Linked DNA regions of Homo sapiens. The protein of the gene in region 1 purifies or fractionates together with the protein of each later gene. This does not show direct contact. Each region holds a gene or a part of one and is shown in the gene's direction. Other genes may lie near its edges.

What was found. The genes of interacting proteins can lie anywhere in the genome.
Region 2: the proteins of SPON1 (region 1) and DPY19L3 purify together in Homo sapiens (affinity purification with mass spectrometry; one large-scale study listed by BioGRID and IntAct). This does not show direct contact.
Region 3: the proteins of SPON1 (region 1) and C5orf22 purify together in Homo sapiens (affinity purification with mass spectrometry; one large-scale study listed by BioGRID and IntAct). This does not show direct contact.
Region 4: the proteins of SPON1 (region 1) and RMND5B purify together in Homo sapiens (affinity purification with mass spectrometry; one large-scale study listed by BioGRID and IntAct). This does not show direct contact.

What each region holds. Positions count from the first base shown.
Region 1 is NC_000011.10:14,262,475-14,267,479, forward strand, and holds part of SPON1 (spondin-1 precursor), read left to right. Parts: intron 1-237; coding exon 238-501; intron 502-3,049; coding exon 3,050-3,213; 3' UTR 3,214-5,005. UniProt on the Homo sapiens protein: Cell adhesion protein that promotes the attachment of spinal cord and sensory neuron cells and the outgrowth of neurites in vitro. May contribute to the growth and guidance of axons in both the spinal cord and the PNS.
Region 2 is NC_000019.10:32,440,122-32,444,642, forward strand, and holds part of DPY19L3 (protein C-mannosyl-transferase DPY19L3), read left to right. Parts: intron 1-4,521. UniProt on the Homo sapiens protein: C-mannosyltransferase that mediates C-mannosylation of tryptophan residues on target proteins.
Region 3 is NC_000005.10:31,538,653-31,543,173, forward strand, and holds part of C5orf22 (UPF0489 protein C5orf22), read left to right. Parts: coding exon 1-37; intron 38-2,296; coding exon 2,297-2,359; intron 2,360-2,628; coding exon 2,629-2,750; intron 2,751-4,521.
Region 4 is NC_000005.10:178,129,717-178,134,686, forward strand, and holds the start of RMND5B (E3 ubiquitin-protein transferase RMND5B), read left to right. Parts: upstream 1-1,297; 5' UTR 1,298-1,338; exon of another isoform or gene 1,339-1,520; 5' UTR 1,521-1,660; intron 1,661-4,970. UniProt on the Homo sapiens protein: Core component of the CTLH E3 ubiquitin-protein ligase complex that selectively accepts ubiquitin from UBE2H and mediates ubiquitination and subsequent proteasomal degradation of the transcription factor HBP1.

The sequences.
Region 1 (5,005 bases):
CATAGAGGGAGCATAGAATGGGTGATGACCTGGCACCAATCCTGCCTCTGCTGCTTACCAACCACACGGGCTGAAGTCAGCCTGCCTCTTTGGAGCCTCAGTTTCTTCTTCTGTAAAATAGCATGACACAGCACCTGCTTTGCATCCCTCATAGGCTTGTTGAGATGTTCAAAGGAGAGCGTGACCATATCTTGTTTCAGACATGTGATACACTCATGCCCATCTGTGTCTTGCCAGCCATTGACTGTGAGCTCACCGAGTGGTCCCAGTGGTCGGAATGTAACAAGTCATGTGGGAAAGGCCACGTGATTCGAACCCGGATGATCCAAATGGAGCCTCAGTTTGGAGGTGCACCCTGCCCAGAGACTGTGCAGCGAAAAAAGTGCCGCATCCGAAAATGCCTTCGAAATCCATCCATCCAAAAGCTACGCTGGAGGGAGGCCCGAGAGAGCCGGCGGAGTGAGCAGCTGAAGGAAGAGTCTGAAGGGGAGCAGTTCCCAGGTATGGCTCCCAAGTGTCAGCCTGGGTGGTCTCCAGGACAGGCAGGGTTCTGCACTGGGCTAAGTCTTGGACCTGTTTAAAAAAAAAAAAAAAAAAAAAGTCGGGGAGAGTCTGCATCTTCTGGAGTCTTCAGGCCACATTTTGATTCTTTAGATCCAAGTTTGTTCCCAAATATTGAGCAAGCATAATTTATAAAGGAGATTGGCGGTGGGGGTCATTTATCAAAGAACATTTAGATAACCTAATTACCTGCCAAAAATAAATTTTCAAGCAAAGAATCTTTAGGAATTACAGTTCCTTCTTTACACACATATAAAACCAATAATGTGTCCAACTTTGCTCAAAGTCAGTTATGACTTAGCAACACCATTCACTCCTTGCAAAGAGGGAAAATGATACAGATGTGTCAAAGGAGTCTTGTCTTGTTCATCATTTAGGGAATGTTCCTGAGAACCTCCCAGAACACATCATCTTCCATTTTAAGGGTGTGGCTCAGACAAGGCAGCCGTGGCCTGAGACTTTATGATTTTTTTTTGCAAGGCTAACCAGAAGTTTATCAGCAGTGTCATGTCAGCCTTGAGTTTTATTTCCCCAAATAATATTGATCCAAGCTGACAAATAACTAATAGAACAATGCACCAAGTGCTCAGGGAGCTGAGGAATGAGCATCATCTTACATTGACTGGAGTTCAGGGAGATGTCAGAGCAGGGAAAACTAGAGTGGGTCTTGAAAAATCTAGAGGAGTTTGCCACTTAGAAAAGTACATTCCAGGCCGGGCACGGTGGCTCATGCCTGTAATCCCAGCACCTTGGTAGGCCAAGGCAGGCCAATCACTTGAGGTCAGGAGTTTGAGACCAGCCTGGCCAATATGGTGAAACCCCATCTCTACTAAAAGTACAAAAATTAGCCGGGCATGGTGGCGCACACCTGTAATCCCAGCTACTCAGGAGGCTGAAGCAGGAGAATCACTTGAACTGGGGAGGCAGAGGTTGCAGTGAGCCAAGAGCACACCATTGCACTCCAGTCTGGGCAACAAGAGTGAAACTCCGTCTCAAATTAAAAAAAAAAAAAAAGAAAAGTACATTCCAGGCAGCAAGAATAGTCATTACAAAGGCACAGAGATGCCAAAGACCATGATAGGTCCAAGTGATAGGTCCAAGTGATAAATGGGATGCAGATGAAGCACAGAGGACAAGGCAGGCAGGAAACCAGGCTGGGAAGGCAGGGACCAGACCACACAAGGCCAGTGGCCCACCAAGGATTTTGGGACCTGATTCTGTAGGTGGTTTTAAGCAAGAGGGTGACTGTATCAGACCTGTGTTGACTGATTTGGGGATGGCAAACAGACACAGAGGCCAGATAGGTTTTATTTGTAACCCAAGAGAAAGATTATACATCCCCAAACTCCAGCTTAACTTCAGAGTTCCAGGACTTCAGAAGAAAAAGAAAATGCCTGCCAGGGACTTCAGTGCTGAAGGTGCCCATGTAAAAAAGTGAAGATTAACATGTACATCAAGTTTTCTGATTTTTAAAGGCCTATTCTTTTTGAAGCATGAGGATCTCCTTGATGGTTCAGGATCCTTATGATTAGGGAGCTGTTTGCATATCAAAGTGCTGTCTGTTCTACATGGTAGTCAGCCAGTCAACAAACATTCATTAAAGCCTACTATGTGGCAGGTACATAGTTGTACGGTACATTCCTCCATGACTCTTAGCTGTAGTGTGGTTAACAAATATCTCATGTGTAACCATAAATGTGGTGGGTTCTATAAAAGAGGAATCTAGAGTGCTATGGAAGCAGTAATCAAAAGATCTAACCTAATTAATCTCTGGGGTCAGGGAAGTTTTCTTGGAGAGCAGCATGTTTATGCTGAGTAGGAAGAACAAAAATTGTACTTCTCTATACTTAGCATTTGGGAGCCAAGTACTTGGGGAGTAAGGCATAAGAGAAAGTGGTTTAGTGTTCCTTATATGGCTGCTGCATAAGCCATCCCAAAACAGTCTTTTTAAACAATCACTTAGCAAGATTCTGTGGATCAGTGATGTGAACTGGGTCCACTGGATGGTTCTTCTTGGGTCTAGTTTGGACTCATTCATGTGGCTACTACTAGCTGGTGGCACAATTGGACCAGACCAGCCTCACCTGCGTATCTGGGGCCTCATGAGATGGCTGGGGCTTCTCTGCACATGGTCTCTCCAGTGGTCTAGCCAGGCTTGCTTACATGGTAGTAGAAGGGTCCTAGCAGCTTTTAGGCCTGTTTTTGCTCATGTCCCATTGGCCATGGCAAATCATGTAGTCAAGCCCAGATTCAAGAGGTGGAGAAACAGAGTCTGCCTTTTGATGAGAAGAACCGTGAAGCATTTGTGGCCATTTTTTTGCAGTCAGTCACATACGACCTAACTGTCCCTAATAACGACTCTAACCAATCATTACATACTTGAGCAGAGGAGGAGCCCAGACAAGCACATTTCACAGTTCTACTAGAGTTCAGCATCCCTGTTCCGTCCCGTTTCTGCGGGCCTAACAAGGCATTCTCATGCTTTCAGGTTGTAGGATGCGCCCATGGACGGCCTGGTCAGAATGCACCAAACTGTGCGGAGGTGGAATTCAGGAACGTTACATGACTGTAAAGAAGAGATTCAAAAGCTCCCAGTTTACCAGCTGCAAAGACAAGAAGGAGATCAGAGCATGCAATGTTCATCCTTGTTAGCAAGGGTACGAGTTCCCCAGGGCTGCACTCTAGATTCCAGAGTCACCAATGGCTGGATTATTTGCTTGTTTAAGACAATTTAAATTGTGTACGCTAGTTTTCATTTTTGCAGTGTGGTTCGCCCAGTAGTCTTGTGGATGCCAGAGACATCCTTTCTGAATACTTCTTGATGGGTACAGGCTGAGTGGGGCGCCCTCACCTCCAGCCAGCCTCTTCCTGCAGAGGAGTAGTGTCAGCCACCTTGTACTAAGCTGAAACATGTCCCTCTGGAGCTTCCACCTGGCCAGGGAGGACGGAGACTTTGACCTACTCCACATGGAGAGGCAACCATGTCTGGAAGTGACTATGCCTGAGTCCCAGGGTGCGGCAGGTAGGAAACATTCACAGATGAAGACAGCAGATTCCCCACATTCTCATCTTTGGCCTGTTCAATGAAACCATTGTTTGCCCATCTCTTCTTAGTGGAACTTTAGGTCTCTTTTCAAGTCTCCTCAGTCATCAATAGTTCCTGGGGAAAAACAGAGCTGGTAGACTTGAAGAGGAGCATTGATGTTGGGTGGCTTTTGTTCTTTCACTGAGAAATTCGGAATACATTTGTCTCACCCCTGATATTGGTTCCTGATGCCCCCCCAACAAAAATAAATAAATAAATTATGGCTGCTTTATTTAAATATAAGGTAGCTAGTTTTTACACCTGAGATAAATAATAAGCTTAGAGTGTATTTTTCCCTTGCTTTTGGGGGTTCAGAGGAGTATGTACAATTCTTCTGGGAAGCCAGCCTTCTGAACTTTTTGGTACTAAATCCTTATTGGAACCAAGACAAAGGAAGCAAAATTGGTCTCTTTAGAGACCAATTTGCCTAAATTTTAAAATCTTCCTACACACATCTAGACGTTCAAGTTTGCAAATCAGTTTTTAGCAAGAAAACATTTTTGCTATACAAACATTTTGCTAAGTCTGCCCAAAGCCCCCCCAATGCATTCCTTCAACAAAATACAATCTCTGTACTTTAAAGTTATTTTAGTCATGAAATTTTATATGCAGAGAGAAAAAGTTACCGAGACAGAAAACAAATCTAAGGGAAAGGAATATTATGGGATTAAGCTGAGCAAGCAATTCTGGTGGAAAGTCAAACCTGTCAGTGCTCCACACCAGGGCTGTGGTCCTCCCAGACATGCATAGGAATGGCCACAGGTTTACACTGCCTTCCCAGCAATTATAAGCACACCAGATTCAGGGAGACTGACCACCAAGGGATAGTGTAAAAGGACATTTTCTCAGTTGGGTCCATCAGCAGTTTTTCTTCCTGCATTTATTGTTGAAAACTATTGTTTCATTTCTTCTTTTATAGGCCTTATTACTGCTTAATCCAAATGTGTACCATTGGTGAGACACATACAATGCTCTGAATACACTACGAATTTGTATTAAACACATCAGAATATTTCCAAATACAACATAGTATAGTCCTGAATATGTACTTTTAACACAAGAGAGACTATTCAATAAAAACTCACTGGGTCTTTCATGTCTTTAAGCTAAGTAAGTGTTCAGAAGGTTCTTTTTTATATTGTCCTCCACCTCCATCATTTTCAATAAAAGATAGGGCTTTTGCTCCCTTGTTCTTGGAGGGACCATTATTACATCTCTGAACTACCTTTGTATCCAACATGTTTTAAATCCTTAAATGAATTGCTTTCTCCCAAAAAAAGCACAATATAAAGAAACACAAGATTTAATTATTTTTCTACTTGGGGGGAAAAAAGTCCTCATGTAGAAGCACCCACTTTT
Region 2 (4,521 bases), on another chromosome or scaffold:
GGAATGGATTTTATTTTGGGGCATAAATGCCTAGGTCAATTGTTATTTATAGAGATGACTTAAATTTTAAAATATAAGATAGCTCTTTTAAAATGTCTTACTGTGTACTGCCACTTTTAAAAAAGAAATCAATAGGTATATAACAGCTTTTTTGTAGTACTTTATAAAATTTTCATAGTCACATTTAACTAATATGGGATGTGAATCCCTGTTGACTGGCTGAAAGTCACATGTGAAATAAAGAAACCAGTATCTGTCTCCTAATGTCTGCTGCTGTCATTTAATCACATTTTTTCATGTGCAAAAATATGATTTTATGTATTGCGTACAGTTTTAAAATGGCTTATAGTTAGTATTCTAAAGTAGTAGTAACTTAAATATTTCCCAAGTATAATAAAATACTTTCTCCATATCTAAGGCAGCAGCATAGCCCAAGGATTTGTGCTCATTTATTCCATATCAAAGGAGATCCAGTAAGCTTCCATAACTGACTGAGTCTGAATTAAGAAACATAAAAGTCTACCAAGAAATACACATTGCCTGTCTACTGAGACACTGTAATAGAATGGGCACTACAGAAAATGCCAATATGTGTAATTCATTGTCATAGCCACAGTTTGCCTTTTAGCTTGGGAAACAAAGATCACAGACAACAAGAACAAGCAGACAAATGATAGCTGCTAATTAGCAATACTGATATATCTAAAAGAAGAAAAGTTATTTTTAGGCAGAGAAGTGTTTACAGAAGTAAGAAGCTAGAACTGGACCACCTAGATCACAAGTGAGGGTAGAATTTGGGTGGGATGTCAGGGGTGGGGGCAGAATAGGAAGGTGGAATGCAGCAAGAGCAAGTAGATAGGACTAAGTTTATATATGTATATGAAATGTTTAGTGTTTCTGCAGGTGTGCCAGTGACCACTCCTACACTGCTGGTAACCTATACACTCCTATAATCTTTCTTTAGTGTAGTTTCACAGTAGGTATCAAAAGCCTAAAAATGTATTTGCCTTTTCACCAACATTTCTACCCCTATAAGTTTGTCCTAAGTAAATAATCTGCCATGTTCATTTTAGTTGTATTGTAATAAGAAAAAGCTGGGCGGAAAAGATAAAAAGAAATAAAAAACTGGAAATGACTTGAGCCAATAGCAATAGGGTATACTTAAATAAATGATGGCATATCTATGCAATCAAATATTATATAACCATTAGTTCCCCCATATTTTTTTGAAAAAGCGAAACATAGAGAAAATGAGTAAAGGTTCTGGAAAAATACACAGTAAAGTATCAACAGTCAGCTACACGATTGATGTTCTGCATATTCTTTTTGTTCTTTAGATCTTTTGATTTTTTCTGATAATGAACATGTGTCTCTTTTTTTTTTTTTTTTTCTTTGAGATGGAGTCTCACTCTGTCTCCCAGGCTGGAGTGCAGTGGCGCGATCTTGGCTCACTACAACCTCCACCTCCTGAGTTTAAGCAATTCTCCTGCCTCAGCCTCCCAAGTAGCTGGGAATACAGGTGCATGCCACCACACCCGGCTAATATTTGTATTTTTAGTAGAGACAGGGTTTTGCCATATTGCCCAGGCTGGTCTTGAACTCCTGACCTCAAGGGATCCACCTGCCTTGGCCTCCCAAAGTGCTGGGATTATAGGTGTGAGCCACTGTGCCCATCTGAACATGTATCTCTTTTAAAATTAGAAAGCAAAGGTACTGTTTTGGCTCACATACACAACATTTTAAAATAATATAGCTAATTGATTTTTTATTTAGTTCTAAACTTTGTTCAACTTTTACATTTGAAACTGTGTTGGTATTAGAAGTAGTTTTAAGTATCAGACTTTAAGGAGGAACATTATTACAATGAAAGGATCCTGAGTTATAAAACTAAATTGCTGCTGTCAGGTCTGAAAATAACTGGCTCTTTCAGCTTAGGCAAGTGATTTAACTTAGTTTCTTCATAAATTAGAATCACTTCTCTCTAACCATGTCAAATGGGAAAGAGTCAGAATAATTGGTATAGAAAAAGGTAATACAAATTCAGAGCTCAGTGTGGTGACAAGAAGCAGTACCTTCTACAGTACATTTTGTCATCTTTTCATGAATGATGAAACTCTTACCAGCAAAACCTCAAGTTTCCAGTCAGAAATGTGAACAGAGTAAAACAGAACAGCAAGCATATTATAAAGTGTATACTTTTGCTTAATTAAAGGCTAAAATATGGAGGTTAATAAAGTTTTCTTAATCTATTGTGGAAACAGACGCATTCATGATAAATGCTTAAGAGATCATGTTAAGTACCCTACATGGTTCCAGACAAGAGGGAGTAGAGACATTTCTCCCCGTTCCTCCCCAAAGTACATTGAAAAACCTTAGACAGTATATGTATATAACAAACATAAGAGGAATTTGAGAGGTAGAGAGAAGCAGACTGCCTAGGGACCTTGCGACCAGAGGGAAAATTTGACAGCGAGTTTCTTGGGTTTTCTTTTTGCCCCATATATCCTTGACTGGGTGCTGGAGAAGTCAGAAACCTGGGAATAACAATGGACTCAAACAAAAAGCCTCCTCCCTCTAGCAAAAGGACCAGAAGAGAGGAAGCCTAACAAGACAGAAAACTTTCAAACATTAACTGCCTTATTCTAGCGAAATGCTACAGAAGCAAAACCACAGCTCCACTCCCACCTCCATCAGTAAAGTTCAGTGGGAAGCCTAGATTCCTACCCTCACCTAGCTGTCACTAGGCATGCCTTGCTTCCTGCCAGAGCTATGTCAGAGAAGTCTAGTGGGGAACCAGAACTTTCACCATCTCCCAGAGACATCTGTGAAGGCCACTTGGGAAACTTGGACTTCAACTCTCACTCAGTGGTAATGAGACATCCTGTCCCCTCTCTATCAGGATGGTGTCAGAGAAGGTCAACAGGGAGGTTGAGACTCTAACCACCACCCAGATGTAATAAGCCTTTCTCTACTGCCCTACCCCATGCTGTCGGTGCAGGCCATGTAGGGAGCAGTGGTGACGCACCTCTGTTTCTCCCAGCCAGCATGTGTCAGCAGGGACCTGTAGAGAGCCTGAACTTTCGCCTTCACCCAGCAATAAGGAAGTACACCTTCTGCTGACCCCCAGATGTCAGTGGAGGGCAAGTGGGCACCTTGGACTTCCATTTCCGTCTGAAAGTACTGAGGCAGCACCCTTCTTTCCCCATTAGCATAGCGTTGGCATAGTTTGAATGTTTTTGTGGTCCCCCACCAAATTTATATGTTGAAACCCAAATCCCCAAGGTGATTGTATTAGGAGGTAGGTAGGGCCTTTTAGAAGGTGATTAGTGCCATTATAAAACAGGCACAAGGGAGCTGTTTCACCCCTTTCACCATGTGAGGAGGACACAGCAAGAAAGTGCCATCAGTGAACCAGGAAATAAGCCCTCACCAGCCACTGAATCTGCCAGTTCCTTGATCTTGGACTTGCCAGCCTCCGGAACTATGAGAAGTAACTTTTTTGTTGTTTATAAGCTACCCAGATTACGGTATTTTGTTAGATAACAGCCTAAATGGACCAAGACACATGGTGTCACAGGAGGCCTGCTAACATGGCAGATTTAAATAAGATCCAGGGTCCCATAATGTAATAGGATACAGTTAAAAATCACTTCTTAGGCCGAGCGCAGTGGCTCATGCCTGTAATCTCAGCCCTTTGGGAGGCCAAGGCAGGCAGATATTTGAAGTCAGTTTGAGATCAGCCCGGGCAACATGGTGAAACCCCGTCACTACTAAAAATACAAAAATTAACTGGCTGTGGTGGCATGTGCCTGTAATCACAGCTATTCAGGAGGCTGAGGCAGGAGAATAGCTTGAGCGAGCCAAGATGGGGCCACTGCATTCCAGCCTGGGCAACGGAGCAAGACTCTGTCTCAAAAAAAAAAAAAAGAAAAAAAAATTCTTATATTAAGAATTAGGAAAATCTCTCTTGAGTGAAAAGAGACAATCAATAGATGCTAACACTGAGATACACAGAAATTGGAATTATCTTACAAGGAATTTAAGGCAGCCATCATAAAAAAAAAGCTTCATTGAGCAATTACGAACACACTTGAAACAAATGAAAATACAAACTCTAAGCAAAGAAGTAGAAGATACAAAGAAGAAGCAAGTGGAAATTTTAGAACAGAAAAATTCCAGTAATCGAAGTTTAAAACTCAGTGGATGGACTCAACAGCAAAATGAAGTAGTCAGAGGAAAGAATCAGTGAACTTGAAGATAGAACAATTTAGAAATTACCTAATCTGAACAACAAGAAAAAATAGAATGAAACAAAAATGAACAGAGCCTCAAGGACCTGTGAGACTATAATGAAAAGTCTAACATTCAGGTAATCAGAATCCCAGAAGAAGACAAGAAAAGAGTTTACTGAAGCTGAAAAAAGTATGCAAAGAAATACTTTCGGAAAAAATAGTTGAAATTTCCTCAAATTTGGCAAAAGCTATAAACCTTCAGAATCAGCAAGCTGAACTAATATCAAAC
Region 3 (4,521 bases), on another chromosome or scaffold:
TTCAGTCAAGAATCCCTTCAAAGAAATGTTCACTCAGGTAAATAATTGTGTTTTTAACACATAGATCTTGAGAATTGTATGGCTTTTCTCTAGATGAGGAACCAGCAAACTCTTTAAACAGCCAGCTAGCAATTATTTTAGGCTTTGGGGTTCACATTCTCTACTAATACCCTTTTCTGTTGTTTTCTAAACCTTTTAAAGTTGTATATACCATTCTTAACTTGAGGGCCATACACAAACAGGCTATAGGCTGTGGATTGCCAACTCCTGCTCTAGATAGTATTCATTATTTTGCATTTATTAATTGGGGTAATGTATACATGGGTGATGGATAAAAATTAAGTCATACAGTACAGGTATATACAGTCAGCCCTCTGTATCCGTGGGTTCTGTATTCCTGGATTTAACCAGCCACAGATAGGAAATATTCAGAAAAAATAAAAAACAACTAGAAATAACAATACAAGAGTAAAAAATAATACAAATAAAAAACAATACAGTATAACAACTATTTACATAGGATTTACACTGTATTAGATACCACAAGTAATTTAGAGATGACTTAAAGTATATGAGAGGGTATGCATATGTTATATGCAAATACTACACTATTTTATGTCAGGGACTTGAGCATCCACAGATTTTGGTATCCACAGGAGGTCCCAGAACCAATCCCCCACGGATACCAAGGGACAAGTGTACATTGAAAAACAGCACTCTCTTATCCCCATTCCCTCAGTTCTTTGCTTCAGAAACAAATACTGTGATCAGTTTCTTGTGTATCTTTCCAGCGATATTCTATATATAAATCCTGTGTAACAGATTATTCCTTAAACAGTGATGTGCCTGATTACTCACCTAAATATTTGTAATAAATATTTGTAATGAAAGTTTCTAGAAGGTTACATAAGGAATTCAGTGGCAGTTATTCCTTTTAGAGTGCTATTAGGAAACCTGGGAACACAAGGATTTGTATAGCCTAAATACCCTTTGGTACAATGGACTTTTTAAAAAGCATATATTAAACTTTATTATTTAGTAGCAATTTTTTAAATATCATTAGGAAAGACAGATGTTCATCTTTTTTTTTTTCTTAAGAGCATGTTCAGGCTGGGCATGGTGGCTCATGCGTATAATCCCAGCACTTTGGGAGGCCAAAGCAGGAGGACCACTTGAGCCAAGGAGTTTGAGAACAGCGTAGGCAACGTAGCAAGACCCCATCTCTATTAAAAAAAAATTTTTTTTTTAATTTAGCCAGGCATAGTGGCACGTGCCTGTGGTCCAGCTACTCAGGAGGCTGAGATGGGAGGATCACTTGAGCCTGGGAGGTCAAGGCTGCAGTGAGTCGTGATCGCACCCCTGCACTCCAGCCTGGGTGACAGCGAGACCCCATCTCATAAAAAAGAAGCATGTTCAAAAGTTAGGGGAGTTAAGTTCTGTTGTTAACTCTACTGCTTATTAGCTATATGATCTTAGGAAAATTACTTAACCTTTCCGACCCATAGTTTCTTCAAGTATCAAATCAGAATAATAATCATACCCAACTCAGGATTGTTATAATGAATAAAGCACTGAAGATATGCCACAACATTGTGCTTAATGAATTTTAGCCCTTGGGTATAACCTTTTCCTGAGAATACTCCTAAATAGGATTACTGGGGCCAGGTGTACCCACCTATATAATGGATCCATGTAGCTGTGCTAAACAAGGGGAAACATTATCCTACAAAGTTTGTATAGCAAGCCTCTTTCTCCCCTTGTGTGGTGCCTCCTGACCGAGGTTCTATGTCTTTGACATTCTACCTCCAGTATTGCCTTTGTACTTCAGAGATCTCTTCTGTTGTTAGAGAAATGGCTGCAAAGTGAACATAGGGAGTTCTTTGTTGTTGTTATTAAAGATATGTATATTTCCTGTAAACAGCTAAGTCTGTTTAGATCCTAGGACATGGCATTTATATAGCAGAATATTATTTAAAATATTTTCATCTCGTGACCCATTAGCCACCAAGTATGCTTCCTTAGGTAATTTTTACATAGTAGTACCATGCCCAGCTGGATAGAGTTGCCTTGAAGAAGTGATATTTACAATAAAACAAAATTTTACAATATTTACAATAAAATTATTACAATAAAAATCTAAAGTATACATTTTGCCTGATTCTCCCATACATACCTTTAAATAATTATCTAAGATGTTCTTGTATCACAAGGAAGGTTGTCTCTTCCTTAAAGCATATCATTAAAAAATTTTAACTTTTTTTTTTCTGGTATGTGGATTTTTTGTTTTGTTTTCCAGGAAGAGTACAAAATCTTACAAGAGCTGTACCAATTTAAGAAACCTGGCACCAACCTAACAGAGGTATCCTCCATTTGTTTCTTTGGGGTTTTATTCATTTATCATATAACTAATAATATCTTGCAAATTACCACAGTGATCTCAAAGACTGCTCAAAGTGTGTGTGTGTGTGTGTGTGTGTGTGTGTGTGTGTGTGTGTGTATTGGCGAAGCCCATGGTTAGTACTTGAAAATTATGTTTTAACTAATAGAGCCAAGTTTTTTTTGTAATGGGATGTTGCTTGTTTTTTGAAAGAATAACTATATAATCTCAGCTTTTCAATGTATTTAAAGGAAGATTTGGTAGATATTGTTGATACTCGAATTCATCAATTAGAGGATTTAGAAGCCACTTTCGCTGATTTGTGTGATGGTGATGATGAAGAAACGGTACAGAGATGGGCTTCAAACCCTGGGTAAGACTCTCAAACATTTTTTTCCCCCAACTCTACTAACTTTCAGTCCTAGATATGTTCCTAAATTTGCAAGATACATTGCTTTTAAAAAAGTAGTATTCAGCTACTTGGGACACTGAGGCAGGAGAGGACCACTTGAGGCCAGGAGTTCCAGACCAGCCTGGGTAATGTAACAAGACCCTGTCTCTAAAAAAAGGTTTTTTAATTAGCCAGATATGGTGGCACCTACCTGTAGCCACTACAGCCACTGCTCCCAGCTACTTGGGAGGCTGAAGTGGGAGGATTGCTTGGGCCAAGGAGTTTGAGGCTGTAGTGGGCTGTGATCATGCCACTGCACTCTACCCTGGGTGACAGAGACTTGTCTCAAAAAAGAGAGAAAAAAAAGAATTAGTATTAAATTTCAACACATTTACTAACAATAGTAGACATTATTGAGTGTTTTCTGTGTACCCTTTATCTAAGATTTTTCCTTGCCTTATCTCATGTACTCCTTACAACAGTCTTATGGTTTTATTATTATTATGTCAATTTTATAGATGAGGAAACCAAGGTTAAGTAAATTGCCCCAAGTCACATAGTAAGTGGGCATGTTTTTAGTCTTTGTATGGTAGCTGCCCCTAAATATGAGATACTATACAAGGTCTTAAAGAGAATTAAAGATGAGTAGTACATAGGCATTCCCTGTTCTAAGTAGAGTAAGAAAGAAATACTAACCTAACAACAGAAAAGTAAATTACTTGACAAGTAAATTACAATGCAAAAATTTGGCTGGGCGTGGTGGCTCACGCCTGTAATCCCAGCACTTTGGGAGGCTGAGGCGGGCGGATCATGAGGTTAGGAGATCGAGACCATCCTGGCCAACACGGAGAAACCCAGTCTCTACTAAAAATACCAAAAAAAAAAAAAAATTAGCCGGGCATAGTGGTGGGCGCCTGTAGTCCCAGCTACTCGGGAGACTGAGGCAGGAAAATGGCGTGAATCCGGGAGGCGGAGCTTGCAGTGAGCCGAGATTGCATCACTGCACTCCAGCCTGTGGAGACTGGACTTTTTCTGAGACTCCGTCTCAAAAAAAAAAAGCGAAAACTTAGCTTCTTTTAAGGAAAACCCAAACACAAGTGGAAGGGTATTTTCAATCTCTTGACGTGAAGGAGCAGTATTTGAAGGCTAGATTCTCCATCAGGTAATTTATTTGACTGGCTGTTCATATCACCTTGAAAGAATGGAGAGAGAAGTTCTTTTTGAGTGAAAGCCTTTGGTATTGAAGCTGGAGTGAAAGAATATTGACATAAATATTACAGTGATTTTTCTCTAAAATAATTCTTAAATCATGTAATCTCAAACAGCCAGAAAACTAAAATAAAACCATCAGACAAACTTTTTGTCCCCATGAGCATAGGAAAACCAGAACTAGCTTATTTTAAAACTAATCTCCCACGAACTGTCATATTATTCTCTCTGGTGTAAACAAAAGAAAATCAGTTGTAAGGTAGCAAGATAAAACGGGAAATTAGAATCAATAGTACTTTAGGCCAGAACATGAACAGCCACTAAGATTTGTCATGTTTTGGTTATTAAAAATAATTCAGCAGATCTCTAGAAGAATATGGAAAAAGCTGAAACAGTGGTTGCCTCTGGGGAGAGGAATTCTATGGCTAAATGATGAAGTATATGAGTGAGAAATTACTTCTTTTGCTATGTGCACGTATTATCTATTCAAAATACTCATTGTAATTTTTACTTAAAATATTCAGAAACATCCCTAAAATGTAAA
Region 4 (4,970 bases), on another chromosome or scaffold:
TGGAGTGCAATGGCGCGATCTCGGCTCACTGCAACCTCCGCCTCTCGGGTTCAAACGATTCTCCTGCCTCAGTCTCCCGAGTAGCTAGGATCATGGGACTACAGGCGCCTGCCACCATTCCCGGCTAATTTTTGTATTTTTAGTACAGACGGGGTTTCACCATATTGGACAGGCTGGTCTCGAACTCCTGACCTTATGTTCCGCCCGCCTCAGCCTCCCAAAGTGCTGGGATTACAGGCGTGAGCCGCCCGGCCCGGAGTTTTCTATTCTTTTTTTTTGAGACGGAGTCTCGCTCTGTCGCCCAGGCTGGAGTGCAGTGGCGCCGTCTCGGCTCACTCCGAGCTCCGCCTCCCGGGTTCACGACATTCTCCTGCCTCAGCCTCCCGAGTGGCTGGGACTACAGGCGCCCCCCACCTCGCCCGGCCAATTTTTTGTATTTTTAGTAGAGACGGGGTTTCACCGTGTTAGCCAGGATGGTCTCGATCTCCTGACCTCCTGATCCGCCCGCCTCGGCCTCCCAAAGTGCTGGGATTACAGGCGTGAGCCGCCGCGCCCGGCCTGGAGTTTTCTTTTTTTTTTTAAGCATCACTTCATATTTCAAGAGCTCTCAGTTCTCCTGAGATTTCTAGGCTCTGTCCAGGATCCCTAAGCCTGTTCACAGTCCTACTTGAAGTTTCTAATCTTTCTTTTCTCATTAACCAAAACTGGAGAGAGGAAAAAGCCCATCATTTTCCCTGGACAGCAGCGCCTACTGGGAGTTTCACCCGCATTAACATGCAAACGACAGGCAAACTCCTAGTCATCCTTCCAAAGACCCTGCTCCACAGCCCTGCCGAGGCCGGTGCGCACCTAGCCCAGCCACTGCCCCTCACGGCCCCCGCGCCGCCCTCACTGAGCAGGGCGGGCAGCGCTGTAAGCGTAACCACTTGGGGCTTGGGGCTTCTGACCCGGGAGTCGGGTGCTGGGTTGAGTGCGAGGCCGACGCCTCTGCCGGGTGGGGAACCCGCCCGCCGGCGAGGAGCGGTCGCGGCCAGGGGCTTCCGCCGACTGGGAGGCCCGGGGCCGGGCCGGAGGGACTCGGAACCTGGAAACGACCAGGCGCGACCCCCAGAGGACTACAGGCGCGGCTTTTCTGGCCGCCGCCCGGTTCCCGCGGGCGACTCCACTCGGCATGCGCGGCGGGGAGCCTCGGCGGTGAGGCGCAAAGCCGCGGGCTCGTGGGACGGCCACCCCTCCGCAAAACCGCCAATGGGCGGGCCCGGGCCGCCGATCGCCCGCCGCGGCTTCCGGTTCCGATGACAGTGGCGCCGGAAGCCGGGGCCGGGGCTGCGGGGCGAGGTGAGAGCGGGCGGGCTTGGGAGCCGGCAGGTGCGGGCCGAGGGCGGGCACAGCGGCCGGCGGAGCTGAGGCGCGCGGCGGGGAAAGCTCGGCCGGCCTCCCGGGCCCCAGCCTTCTCCAGAACCCCTGCTACCCACGACTAAGCCCCGAACAATCTGCCCTTGGGCTTGTTCTCTTCGCAGTTGTCGGCCCTGGGCCGGGAGCTGGAGTCCCAGACTCATAGGTCCCGGCCCAGCCCCCGAAGAGCCGCCTCAGCCGGGGGGAGTTGCTCGGACTCAAACGTCCAGTCCTCGTGCGACCGCGCTGGGTCGGAAGTGAGCAGGTGCGCACCGGGCTCGGCAGGGCTATGGAGCAGGGTCTTTGGAAGGATGACTAGGAGTTTGCCTGTCGTTTGCATGTTAATGCGGGTGAAACTCCCAGTAGGCGCTGCTGTCCAGGGAAAATGATGGGCTTTTTCCTCCCTCCAGTTTTGGTTAATGAGAAAAGAAAGATTAGAAACTTCAAGTAGGACTGTATAGTAAAAAAAAAAAAAAAATGGAGGAGGGCGATATGACACGGTAACTGGTGTGAGGGTGGGGCGGAGGGGTCAGTATTAGATACTGTGGTCTAGCAGAGCATCTCTGAGGACGGGACATTTGCGTTGAGACCCAAATTAGGAGGCAGGCTTAGGAAGATACGGGAAGAGAGTGGTCCAGGCAGCGGGAACAGCCAGTGTGAAGGCCCTAGGGCAGAAATCAACTGAGAGTATAGTCAAGGAACAGAAAGCAAGCTAGTGTGGCTAAAGTATGGTAAGAAAGGGAAAGAGTGGTAGGAGATGAGGTCGGATAATTGGGGTTTGGTCACATAGAGTCTGTAGGTCAGAGAGAGGAATGTGGAGTTTTTTCTAAGTACAGTGGAAATCTTTTGGTTTTAAGCAGAGGAGTGACATGTAGGGTAGAGAGTGGATGGAGGTCGCGGCTGCAAAAGCATAAGAATTGGCTGGGCACGGTGGTTCACGCCCGTAATTCCAGCACTTTGGGAGGCTGAGACTGGCAGACGGCTTGAGCTCAGCACTTCAAGACCAACCTGGCCAACATGGTGAAACCCTGTCGCTCCAAAAAATTAGGCTGGGCGCAGTGGCTCACGCTTGTAACCCCAGCACTTTGGGAGGCCAAGGCGGGAGGATCACTTGAGGCCAGGAGTTCAAGACCAGCCTGGCCAACATGGTGAAACCCCGTCTCTACTAAAAATACAAAATTTAGCCGGGTGTGGTGGCAGGTGTCTGTAATTCCAGCTACTTGGGAGGCTGAGGCAGGAGAATCGCTTGAAACTGGGAAGCAAAGGTTGCAATGAGCCAAGATCGTGCCACTGTACTCCAGCCTGGGCGACAGAGTAAGACTCTGTCTCAAAAACAAACAACAAAAAAATTAGCCAGGTGTGGTGGGGAGAGAGGGGAAGAATAGGGACAAAAGGGAATACATAAATAAACACAAAGGAGAAAAGGCCCTGCATGGACCACTTACATGTGTCATGAACTCAGGAGTGTTCATGGTGGGACTACATGGTGCACCTGTAGTCCCAGCTTCTTGGGGTGGGGGGCTGAGGTGGGAGGATCACTTGAGCCCAGGAGGTCGAGGCTGCAGTGAGCCCTGATTGTACCACAGCACTCTGGCCTGGGAAACAGATTGAGACCCTGTCTCTCTCTTTTTTTTTTTTTTTTTAAGCAACCCTATTAACTGAAGAGACCCTGCCTCACAAAAAAAAAAAAAAAAAAAAAAAAGCGTTAAGAATTGGGTCAATGGAGGTTGTCTAATCTTTTTTTTTTGTTTTTGTTTGTTTGTTTGTTTTTTTGAGACAGTCTCACTCTGTCGCCCAGGCTGGAGTGCAGTGGCGCCATCTCAGCTCACTGCAACCTCTGCCTCCTGGGTTCAAGCAATTCTCCTGCCTCAGCCTCCCGAGTAGCTGGGATTACAGGCACGCACCACCACGCCCAGCTAATTTTTGTATTTTTAGTAGAGACAGGGTTTCGCCATGTTGGTCAGGCTGGTCTCAAACTCCTGACCTTGTGATCCGCCTGCCTCGGCCTCCCAAAGTGCTGGGATTACAGGCATGAGCCACCACGCCCAGCCGATGTTGTCTAATCTTTGTCAGGCAAAAGGGACCTTTATGATTTGCTCAAACTTCCTTTCTCCTTACACAGGAGCCCCTTGTTTCAGGATGCTAAATACTCCAGGATAAACCTCCATACATGCCTTTGTGGAGATTTTAATATTTCACTCATGTCTCTTTTCTACCCACTCCTACACATTTGAGCTCAGGTTCTCCAGCGCAGTTAGGAAATGGATGTGTCATTTAATCAGCAAATGTGTGTGTGTGTTTTTTTAAATTTGAGACGGAGTTTTTGCTCTTGTTGCCCAGGATGGAGTGCAATGGCGTGGTCTTGGCTCACTGCAACCTCCACCTCCTAGGTTCAAGCGATTGTCCTGCCTCAGCCTCCTGAGTAGCTGGGATTACAGGTGCCCGCCACCACGCCTCGGTAATTTTTGTATTTTTAGTAGAGACGAAGTTTCACCATGTTGGTCAGGCGGGTCTCAAACTCTTGACCTCAGGTGAGCCACCCACCTCAGCCTCCCAAAGTGCTGGGATTACAGGTGTGAGCCACTGCGCCGGCCAATCAACAATTTTTTTTTTTTTTGGAGACGGAGTCTCACGCTGTCTCCCAGGCTGGAGTGCAGTGGCACAATCTTGGCTCACTGCAAGCTCCACCTCCCGGGTTCACACCATTCTCCTGCCCCAGCCTCCCGAGTAGCTGGGACTACGGGTGCCCGCCACCACACCCGGCTAATTTTTTGTATTTTTTTAGTAGAGATGGGGTTTCACCGTGTTAGCCAGGATGGTCTTGATCTCCTGACCTCATGATCCACTCGCCTCGGCCTCCCAAAGTGTTGGGATTACAGGCGTGAGCCACCGCGCCCTGCCCCAATCAACAAATGTTTACTGAGCATCTACCATGGACCAGGCCCTAGTCTGGGCACTGAGGGGGAGAAAGGACAAGACTACATTCCAGCCATCGAGCAGCTCACAGACCAATGGAGGAGGCTGACGTGGACAGGCTGTTACTGTGCTGCAGTAGCTGAGGACTCGATGGGTGTGGTGTGGCCACTCTTGCCAGGTTATGAAGCAGAAAAGGAGGCAGGGAGATTTCACTGAGGGCTCAAGGGGAGGTGATAATTTAACTACAGCTTACGTACTCTATACAAAGAAGTGCAGAGGGCACTCTAAAAATGGGAACAACTTGTGCAAAGGAAGCAAATACATTATTGCAAAGGGTTTATATGTCAACCATGGTAGTGTTGGGCAAAAGGTAACAGGATCTGCTATGTGTTTCGGAGGGTCATCCTGGTGGATAATTTCTGTATATGTGAGACCTTGGGGAGGAAGGCTTAGGACCAGTGGACATGAAATTTCAATCTATTAATCATGAAGTTTGTCAAAGACAAACACAATTCCTTGCGCCTGGTGAAGATGACTGACTGATTCAGGCAGAGTGGCTTGCTCTAGACAGACTGAATTAACCTCCTGCATTTTTTGGATAGAATACCCACGAACAGTTCTGTTTTCTCAGTTCATTTATTTTACTTTTAAAAATTTGG